2 separate regions of the Homo sapiens genome follow, and region 1 is linked to region 2. The links come from fine-mapping of genetic effects on gene expression. A gene starts in region 2. The other region holds a variant in brackets. All regions are shown on one strand. Distances are from middle to middle. Region 1 holds the start of GLIS2-AS1 (GLIS2 antisense RNA 1). Region 2 holds the start of PAM16 (presequence translocase associated motor 16).

Region 1 (5,367 bases), 24 kb before region 2:
GGGCCCTGAGAGGACGAGCCCTCCTGCCTGGGGCCCCCAGCAGGCCCTGCCCCTGCCCGCCAGCCCCTGCTGCTGGGCGGCCAAGGAGGGTGGAGCTCTTGGCCAGAGCAGGGAGCCGCAGCTGGTTCCCAGGAATCTGGGGCTGTGGGGCCGTTTGCTTTGGCAGCAGATCTGCCCTCGGCTCTCCAAGCCTCCTGGTGGGCCCCCCACCCCAGCCAGCCCCTCCAGCGCCCACCCACTGCCTGCTCTGCTATCCCTCCTAGCCCCACAAGTCCCTGGGCGGGGAGGGGGTACCAAGCCTGAGCCCCTGACATAGGAAGGGCCAATAGTGAACATGGCTTCTGGACTTACCTGGGGTTGAAACCCAGCTCTGCCACGGACAAGCTGTGGGACCTTGGATGGGTCACTTCACTCCCCTGAGCCTCAGTTTTTGCATCTGTAAAATGGGGATGAAACAGCACCTGCCTTCACAGTACCCGCACCTGGCTATGGGTACTGTCCTCATGCTGCTTGCCCGTGGCTTCTGGTTGTGGGTTTGCCACCTACTTGTGCAGCCTGGGCTGGATGCCTCCCCCTTCAGCCCTCAGTTTCCCCATCTGTAAGACCATACTGCTGAAGTGATGGTTCCAGTAATAGACTCAGGGACACCCACAGACCAGGGTTTCTCTGACTGGTTCAGGAGTGACCAGGGACTCACTTCCTCTTTCTGTTAAATTAGAAGATGACGGGCTGGGCGTGGTGGCTCCTGCCTGTAATCCTAGCACTTTGGGAGGCAGAGACAGGAGGATGGCTTGAGTCCAGGAGATCGAGACCAGCCTGGATGACACAGGGAGACCCCCCCATCTCTGCAAAATAAAAAATTTAAAAATGAGCTGGGTGTGGTGGTGGTGCACCTGTGGTCCTAGCTGCTCTGCAGGCTGAGGCAGGAGGATCTCTTGAGCCTCGGCGGCAGTTAGCCATGACCACGCCACTGCAGTCCAGCCTGGGAGACAGAGCAAGACTCTGTGTCTTAAAAAAAAAAAAAAAAAAAAAAAAAAAGGCCAGACTTGGTGGCTCACGCCTGTAATCCCAGCACTTTGGGAGGCCGAGGTGGGCGGATCACGAGGTCAGGATATCGAGACCATCCTGGCTAACACGGTGAAACCCTATCTCTACTAAAAAAATACACACAAAAAAATTAGCCGGGTGTGGTGGTGGGCGCCTGTAGTCCCAGCAACTCAGGAGGCTGAGGCAGGAGAATGCTGTGAACCTGGGAGGCGGAGCTTGCAGTGAGCTGAGATCGTGCCACTGCACTCCAGCCTGGGTGACAGAGTGAGACTCCATCTCAAAAAAGAAACAAACAAAAAAAACAAAGGTGACCACATAGACTTCTGAGAGATGCATCTTGAGGCCTTGTCTCCAAGTTCTCAGCTAAATGGCCACTGCTGACCAAAAGCGCACTCGCAGGACACTCCAAGGCAAGGGGTGTTCCTCACATTGCCCTTGACAACACTGCCACGCTGGTCACTCACCTGACCCCATGCTGCTGGGAGCGGGGCAGGGATGCAGCCCCATCTTACAGAGGACCCGCTTCCTTCTGCAAAGAGACCAAGTGGTTCTCAGGGTGGGTGCACACAGCCCCCCAGTGCACCCTGCACCTCCACAGGCTTAGGGCCTGCCAGCCACCCTCCCCCAAGCAGGAAAGGAGGAGCTTTTTTTGTTGTTTTTTGAGACAGGCCGGAGTGCAGTGGTGTGATCTCGGCTTACTGCAGCCTCAAACTCCCCAGGCTCAGGCGATCCTCCCACCTCAGCCTCCCGAGTAGCTGGGACCACAGGTCCCTGCTTCCACGCCCAGCTATTTTTTTTTTTTTTTTTTTTTCCGAGATGGAGTCTCACTCCGTCGCCCAGGCTGGAGTGCAGTGGCGCGATCTCAGCTCACTGCAACTTCTGCCTCCCTGGTTCAAGCGATTCTCCTGCCTCAGCCTCCCGGGTAGCTGGAATTACAGACACCTGCCACCACGCCCGGCTAATTTTCGTATTTTTAGTAGAGAGAGCGTTTCGCCATGTTGGCCAGGCTGGTCTGGAACTCCTGACCTCAGGTGGTCCGCCCTCGGCCTCCCAAAGTGCTGGGATTACAGGCATGAGCCACCGTGCCCGGCCACCGGCTGATTTTTTTACTTCAAACGGGATTTTTCCATGTTGCCCAGGCTGGTGTAGAACTCCTGCACTCAAGGGATTCTCCTGCCTCGGCCTCCCAATGTGCTGGGCTTACAGGCGTCAGCCACCGCGCCTGGCCTAGAAGGAGCTTTATTCAGAGCAGGACTCCAACCAGCTCCCTATTAGCCTAGTGATCTCAAGCCTCAGTTTCCCCATCTGTGAGATCGGGAAAATGACAGCAGCTACTGCCAGGCAGGGTTGTAGAGGGGTCATTGAATCCATGGACAGATGGGCCTGACACGTGGTCAGTACCTAATGGTCCTTTACCCCCTCTGGTGTATGACCCACCCCAGGCCAAGGGGCCCTGGAAGAGACTGTCTTTTCCGGGCCTTAGTTTCCCTGAGTGTGCTGGGTCGCCCCGTGCCTTCCAGTAGGGAGGGTGGGGACAGTGGCCGGCCCCGCCTGCCAGGGCGGGATCCTTGGCTACCTGGCCTGGCCGGGGACTGCGGGCGGGGGGCCGGGTGGCTCCGCCAGCGCTGCAGCTGGGGGCCGTCTGCTCGGGCTGCGGTCGGGCACACAATAGCAGCCATTGTCTCGGCCAGGGTGGCGGGGGGCCCGCCCAGCCCACCCTCCGGGTGACCCCCGCCCTGCGGTGGGTGGGAAGGGCAGGGCCCGGTCCCCCGAAGCCCCCGCCGTCCCGGTGGTCCCCGCGGCCGCCCCCGCGCGCTTCCTCCCTCGCCGCAGCCGCTTCCTCCCGCTCGCCCCGCTCTAATTAGTTCCTTTTGCAGCTGGAGGAGCCGCGCAGCGGCCGGTTCCGCGGCCACCCCCACCCCCCACCGACAACCCCAGCCCTCGCCCCAACCCCTGGGCCCTTGCGTGTGGGGGCGCTGCCCTGGGCGCATCCCAGGCTGAGTGCTCGAGAGACGCGGCCCTGGGCTCTGTGCACCCTCCACGCTGCGCTGTCCCACCGGGGGGAAACTGAGGAACGGAAGGCTCCACCAGGAGGCGCAGAGGGGCGTGGGGCCGGCGGGCCTTGCGCTGCGCCCGGGGAGCATCCACGGGGTGCCCCCACCTGACCGAGAGCCGGCTCCTGCCCTCGGGACCCCGCAGTAATTAGCACCC[A/G]GGCCTCTGGCTGAGCTTGTCCAGAGCCAGGCTGTCGGCCTTACGCTGGGGAGAGCCACGGCCACCCGCTCATGGGCACTCACTCAGGGTTCCCTGGTTGCAGGCCCGCTGCTCCCCGCTCTGGGCCTCCGAGGCTTTCAGGAGAGCAGGAACCTAGCTCTCGCCTGCCCCCTTCACCCAGCCGGGAACAAAAGCACAGAGCAGAGCCCAGAACTGGCTGCTGCCGGTCGGGGCGGGGGTGGAAGGGGAGGCTTTAAGCCTGGCCAAGGTCAGAACTGAAGCAGGGTCACTGACCGTCTCCCCTCTGGGGTGGGGCCTCCATTGGAGGAAAAACTCTGGGTGGGGAGGGCCTGGAACAGGGATGCTGGGAGGTGTAGGGCTGGGGGCAGCTCCTTCCTTTCCCGGGGGCAGGGACGCAGGCCGTGTGCCGGGCTCTGGCCTGCATTGGAATGAACCCCTGCCTCCCTGGCAGGACCCAGTGGCAGGAAGTGTGTGGGGGTGCCCCTGGGGACTGGACCTGCTGATGAAGGGGGTGCATTGGAGTCCTCCCTCTGGCTTTGGGCCGTGTGGCTGGCCCCACCTGGGGAGACAGGCTCCTCCTGGGGAAGTGTCCCCTGCAGGCCCTAAGAACAAGGTGACTCAGGGCCCCTGGCTCCCCGAGTCCCCATCTGTCCTGGGAAGGCAGTGGGGCAGGTGCCAAAGGATGTTGCTTGGGCAGCGCTGCCAGTGAGTGTCCCCGTCAGCTGGAATTCCCAGTTCCCAAACCATCCTGCCCTTGTGGTCCCCTTCTCCGGAAGGGTGGGGGTGGGGGTGAGGACAGAGGCTGTGGGGAGGCCTGTGGCCCCAGGCCAGCCAAGGGACCAGGCCACCAGCCCTTCCTGGCTCCTGAATTCTTCATCAGCATAAATATTTACTTCCTTCCTCCCCGTCCAGGCTTCCAGCACAGAGGAGCTTCGGGGAGGCTGGATTGCGCCTGTGTCTAAAAATAAACAGGTAGCAGGACGATAGACACACAGATAGACAGATGGAACTGGCAGGGGTTCAGGCAGAGGGCAACTCCCTGTCCAGCCAGAGAAACAGTGGAGGGGACCCTGGTCCATCCATCACTGTCACCCACCCACCTGCTAGCGGGGGTGTGGTCCCTACCCCACCGCATCTCTGGGAGCCCCTGGCCCATGCATGGCCTGGGAGGCAAATTCAAACAATCTGACAGCTCCAACAGGGGCGAATCGCAGACCTAGGTCCCACGGCCTAGTGCAGCTGCCCTGGCTCTGATGATGCAGCCTTGGGAGAGGTGGGCAGCCCCCCTGTGCTGAGACCCCCGTGTCAGCCATGTTGGGGTGGGGTCTGGGGATGTGTCCCTAGAAGCAGAGGATCTCCAGTGAAGGGGGGACCATTTTATGCCCTACTTGCTTGGAGAGTCAGGGCAGAAGGGGAGGACGTGGGAGCTGCCTTCCTGTCCTGCCCTGTGGACAGCATCTCTCCCCACTCACAGGCTATGCTAGCCCCCAGGGAAACACACGGGGGCATATCCAAAGTATTTCACCATGTAGTAGTTATGTCCACCATGGCCGCCCTTTGGTATTGAGTAAAGACCCCAATACCGCGAAAGACGGGATCTCACAGCGTGATTGTGCGGCAGTTAGATTTTCAAGTTGTAATAATCCCAATGAACAAACGCAAGGAAATGTCGTGTTTAACCGCGTAGGAAAAGATTGCTGCTCTGAATGTGAAGTTTGGGTTTAGAATGAAGTGTTGACCTTGTTCTTGGGTCGGTGGATACTGTTAGATCATTTGCATGTGAGGAAAATTACACCAGGTGGGGCGAGGTGGCTCACACCTGTAATCACAGCACTTTGGGAGGCCGAGGTGGGCAGATCACCTGAGGTCAGGAGTTTGAGACCAGCCTGGCCAACATGGTGAAACGCTGTCGCTACTAAAAATAGAAAAATTAGCTGGGTGTGATGGTGTACACCTGTAATCCCAGCTACTTGGGAGGCTGAGGCAGGACAATCGCTTGAACTCGGGAGGCAGAGGTTGCAGTGAGCCCAGATCACACCACTGCACTCCAGCCTGGGTGACTGAGAGACTCCATTTCCAAAAAGAAAA
Region 2 (5,367 bases):
CCTTTCCAGGCTCTCCCATGTATACCTTCCGACAGCACTTTCTTTTTTTTTTGGAGATGGAGTCTTGCTCTGTCGCCCAGGCCGGAGTGCAGTAGTGCGATCTCGGCTCACTGCAGCCTCTGCCTCCCGGGTTCAAGAAATTCTTCTGCCTCAGCCTCCTGAGTAGCTGGGACTACAGGCACACGCTGCCATGCCCGGCTAATTTTTTGTATTTTTAGTACAGAGAGGGTTTCACCGTGTTGCCCAGGCTGGTCTCGAACCCCTGAGCTCAGGTAATCCACCCAAAGTGCTGGGATTACAGGCGTGAGCCACCGTACCCGGCCTAGCACTTTCTTTTTTTTTTTTTTTTTTTGAGACGGAGTCTTGCTCTGTCACCCAGGCCGGAGTGCAGTAGCGCGACCTTCGGCTCACTGCAAGCTCGGCCTCCCGGGTTCAAGCCATTCTCCTGCCTCAGCCTCCTGAGTAGCTGGGACTACAGGTGCCTGCCACCACACCCGGCTAATTTTTTGTATTTTTAGTAGAGACGGGGTTTCACCATGTTAGCCAGGATGGTCTTGATCTCCTGACCTCGTGATCCACCCGCCTGAGACCCCCAAAGTGCTGGGATTACAGGTGTGAGCCACCGTGCCCGGCCAGCACTTTCTTTTCCTGTTAATATACTGTCATGCTGGGTGCGGTGGCTCACGCCTATAATCCCAGCACTTTGGGAGTCCGAGGCAGGAGGACTGCTTGGGCCCAGAAGTTTGAGACCAGCCTGGCAACATGGCGAAACTGCATCTCTACAAAAAATACAAAAAATTAGCTGGGCATAGTGGAGCATGCCTGTTGTCCCAACTACCCGGGAGGCTGAGGCTACTGGGGAGGATGAAATGGGAGGATCACCTAAGCCCCAGGAGGTTGAGGCTGCAGTGAGCTGTGATCGTACCACTGTACTCCAGCCTAGGAGACCCATCTGGGGCAACACAGCAAGACCCCACCTCTACATAAAATTTAAAAATTAGCCAGGTGTGCTGGCACTCACCTGTAGGCCCAACTACTTGGGGGTCTAAGGTAGGAGGATGGCTTGAGCCTAGGAGTTCAAGGCTGCAGTGAGCTAGGATCGCTCCACTGCATCCTAGCCGGGGCGACAGACAGACATCCTATCTCAAAAAACAAACCAAAAAAACCCCATGAGTTTTGGGACAGAGCTGGGCTCAAAAGAGGTCTCTGACACCATGGGATGCATGACTATGGTGGAGTCAAAACTGTCTGGGGCTCAGGTTCCTTATCTGTAAAATAAGGACAATGACAGCAGGACTTCATAAACACTAAATGAGAGACTCTACATAAAGCCTTAGCTCAGGGGCTGGCACTTGTACGCCGTTAGCTGTTACATTATCCTTATTACTATGTTAGTTAAGAAGTGGCTCCCCGAACCAGCTGCAACAGAGTCACTTGGGGAACTTACGTGTGCAGAACCTCCAGGGATAGAGCTCAAGAACCTGAACTTTTTTTTTCCCCCTCTTTTTCTTTTTGAGAGAGTTTTGCCCTGTCGCCCAGACTGGAGTGCAGTGGCACAATCTTGGTTCACTGCAGCCTCTGCCTCCTGGGTTCAAGCGATACTGGCGCCTCAACTTCCCAAGCAGCTGGGATTACAGGTGTGTGCCACCATGCCTGGCTAACATATGTATATATTATGTGTGTGTGTGTGTATATATATATATAAAATACATGATATATAAAAATATATATAACATAATAATATGTAGTATACATAAATGTATACGGTATATATAATACATATATATAATTTTTTTTTTGAGACGCAGTCTCACCCTGTCGCCCAGGCTAGAGTGCACTGGCGGATCTCGGCTCATTGCAACCTCTGTCTCGCGGGTTCAAGCGTCTGTCCTGCCTCAGCCTCCCGGGTAGCTTGGACTACAGGCGCGCACCACCCCACCCGGCTAATTTTTTAAATTTTTTGGTGGAGACCGGGTTTCATCATGTTGGCCAGGCTGGTCTCGAACTCCTGACCTCGTGATCCGCCGCCTCGGCCTCCCAGAGTGCTGGGATTACAGGCGTGAGCCACCGCGCCCAGCCAAACCTGCACTTTTAAAGCTACCCTAGGTGACCTGACAGTGTGGCGCAGGTCTGTTGACTGGCTCTACGTGCCAACGATATCACACAAACGCTCCGTGCTCGGTGTCTCGGGGCCTAGTTCAAGTCCCAGGTCAGCCACTTCCCTGGAAAGGCCAGCTTTCCACTGGGGATAACAACAGGGCAGCAACATCGACTCTGCAGCGCTGTAAGGTTCCAGGGCAGGGGAGGCGCTCACCAGCCAGACTCATGCTCCACCGCTGCCCACGGCTGCTCGCTCACACGCGGGCTAGGCACAGCGCGACCACGTTTGCCCGGCCTCTTCCAGGCAGACGGTTTTCCCTGGCCCTGAGGCCGCCGGTGCCGCCGCTGCCGGCCTCGATTCCCCCGGGTGCAACGCCCCCAGACCATGCTTCCCGCCGGGCACGCAGGGGGCGCACGGCGCCCGCCGCCCAGCCCGGAGCTCGCCGCCCGGCCCCCGGCCCCCGGCCCGACTCGGCTTCCCCTCCCCGGTAGCGCCCGACTCGGGGCTCACCATGGCAGCCGCTCTGCCTCCGGGGCTCAAACTCCGACTTCCTGGCCCCGCGGCCGGGGATCAAGCGTGGTCGGCGGGTCAGAGGTCAAGGAAAGCCGCAGAGAGCGCGTGCGCGATACGGCGCTGGGCATGCGCATTGCCTCAGTCTAAGGGCGGGCCACCGGGAGCGTCTTAGCGGCTCGGGGCGGGGTCGGAGGCGGGGTTTGACTGAGCCTGCGTCGGGCTCTGGATAACTGGGGGCGGGCTTGGGAGGGCAAGGGGCGTTACCGGGAGTCTCAATTGCCCGCGTGCTTACCCCAGTGCGCTGGAGCAGCTAAGCACATCGGTCAGACGTGGGGCGATTTCTGCCCTTGATTTTGCCAAAATATTTGGGAATGCAACATTATATGAAATCAATGAACATAATATGGAGTAGGATGCTAAATTCTCAAAAATACTTTAGAAAATAGAAAACTTCAAAATAGGTTTCATCCACATTCCTCCTGCCTGAGAAGCTCGTTCCCTTCTTCAAATCTTTGCTCAAATGTCACCTCAATGAGGCCCACCTGGACCCCTTAAAACGCCGTGACTTGCCCTCCATGAATGAAAAAAGTAACAGCTTTATTGAGATATAATCCATACACTGTAGATTTCATGATTTTCAAGTGCACAGTCCAATGCCTTTTATTCACAGAGCTGTGCCACTGTCACCACTATTAGTTCCAGAACGTTTTCATCACCCATTAGTCACTCCCCAGCCCCCTCCCCCAGCCCCTGTCAACCACTCATTTTTCTCTCTATGGATTCACAGGTTCCGGACATTTCATAGAAATGGAATCATACAAGCCAGGCGTGGTGGCTCATGCCTGCAATCTCAAAACTTTGGGAGGCCGAGGTGGATCGCTTGAGGTCAGGAACTCAAGGCCAGGCTGGGCAACATGGTGAAACCCCATCTCTACAAATACAAAAATTAGCCGGGTGTGGTGGCAGGTGCCTGTAATCCCAGCTACTTGGGAGGCTGAGTGGTGGATCTCTTGAGCCCGGGAGGTACAGGCTGCAGTGAGCTGTGATCACTGCACTCCAGCCTGGGTGACAGAGTCAGGCCCTGCCTCAAAAAAAAAAAAAAAAAAAAAAAAGGTAAAAATGAAAAATGAAAAAAAAGAAGAAATTGAATCATACAATGTGCAGCCTTTTGTGACTGGCTTATCCTCCCTTCTTGTCTCTATTTTTCTTCCAAGACTCTGATCACCCTCTACCATACCACATAATTTACTTATTTATTTTATTTATCATTTTGAGACAGGGTCTCACCCTGTCGCCCAGGCTGGAGTCCAGTGGCACAATCCTGCCTCACTGCAACCTCCACCTCCCAGGTTCAGGCGATGCTCATGCTTTAGCCTCCTGAGTAGCTGGGATTACAGGCATGGACCACCATGCCCCATTAATTTTTGAATTTTTAGTAGAGACAGGGTTTCACCATGTTGGCCAGGCTGGTCTTGAACTACTGGTCTCAAATGATCCACCCGCCACAGCCTCCCAAAGTGCTGGGATTATAGGCATGTGACACTGTGCCCAACCGGTTTTTTATTTTTAAATTATTTTTCCTTTTTTTTTTTTTTTTGAGATGAAGTCTTGCTCTGTCACCCAGGCTGGAGAGCAGTGGCCCAATCTTGGCTCACTGCGATCTCCACCTCCTGGGTTCAAGTGATCCTCCCACTTCAGCCTCCGAAAGTGCTGGGATTACAGGTGTAAGCCACCGTGCCCAGCCAAAAAAAAATTTTTTTTTTTCAAGATAGGGTCTCACTCTGTTGCCCAGGCTGCAGTACAGTAGCATGATCATGGCTCACTGCAGTCTTGACCTTCCAGCCTTGAGTGATACTTTCACCTCAGCTTTCTGAGTAGCTGGGACCACAGGCATGTGCCAACACATGTGGTTAATGTTTGTTTTTTGTCTTTTTGAGAGCGTCTCCCTGTTGCCCAGCCTGGAGTGCAGTGGCATGACCTCGGCTCACTGCAACCTCTGCTTCCTGGGTTCAAGAGATTCTCTTGCCTCAGCCTCCTGAGTAGCTGGGACTACAGGCATGGGCCACCATGTCCGGCTAATTTTTTGTATTTTTAGTAAAGACGGGGTTTCACCGTGTTAGCCAGGATGGTCTCGTGCTCCTGACCTCGTGATCCGCCTGCCTTGGCCTCCCGAAGTGCTCGGATTACAGGCGTGAGCCACCGCGCCCAGCTAATGTTTGTATTCTTTGTAGAGACAAGGGTTCCCCTATGTTGCCCAGTCTGACCTCAAACTCCTGGGTTCAAGCAATCCTCCCACCTTGGCCTCCCTTTATTTTTATGTTTATTGTTGAGAATCTGTTTCCTTCCACTAGAATGGGAGTTCCTTTTGGGCAAGCATTTCCTCTCTCTTCTCTGCTGTTAGATGTCAAGCGCCTGGAAGAGCATCTGGCGCACAGCATTCGGCAAATGGTGGGATGAAAGTTGGGCCACCTGGAATCCTACTCTACACCGCTGCCCTTCTTCCTCTTCCTCCTGGCCTCCACATTCCTCTCTCTGTGCCCACATTGTACTTCCTTGCCTCGGAAGTGGCTCTCTCCCTGGCTGGCTCCTCATCAGCCTTCAAGTCTTGGCTCTTAGCTGAAAGTCACCTTCTCAGGCCCTGAATTCCCTGCCTCGCTGCATCCCAGTTGCTTCCTGTCCCACAGGTTTTTTTGTTTGTTTGTTTGTTTTTTGAGACTGAGTCTTGCTCTGTCACCCAGGCTGGAGTGCAATGG

What was found.
Region 1: its variant is fine-mapped to the expression of PAM16 in whole blood (TOPMed, PIP above 0.99).

What each region holds. Positions count from the first base shown.
Region 1 is chr16:4,324,919-4,330,285 of GRCh38, forward strand. The region is part of intron 1 of GLIS2 (GLIS family zinc finger 2); the gene reads left to right. It overlaps GLIS2-AS1 (GLIS2 antisense RNA 1), which reads right to left and starts at 3,422. Exons shown (of 4, transcript NR_110901.1): 1 at 3,342-3,422; 2 at 1,512-1,576; 3 at 352-436. RefSeq lists enhancers at 1-616, 3,650-4,650. The variant A/G (reference allele first, on the strand shown) is at 3,259.
Region 2 is chr16:4,348,621-4,353,987 of GRCh38, forward strand. PAM16 (presequence translocase associated motor 16) reads right to left here and starts at 2,701. Exons shown (of 5, transcript NM_016069.11): 1 at 2,612-2,701. The coding sequence starts at 2,614. The region is part of intron 27 of CORO7-PAM16 (CORO7-PAM16 readthrough); the gene reads right to left.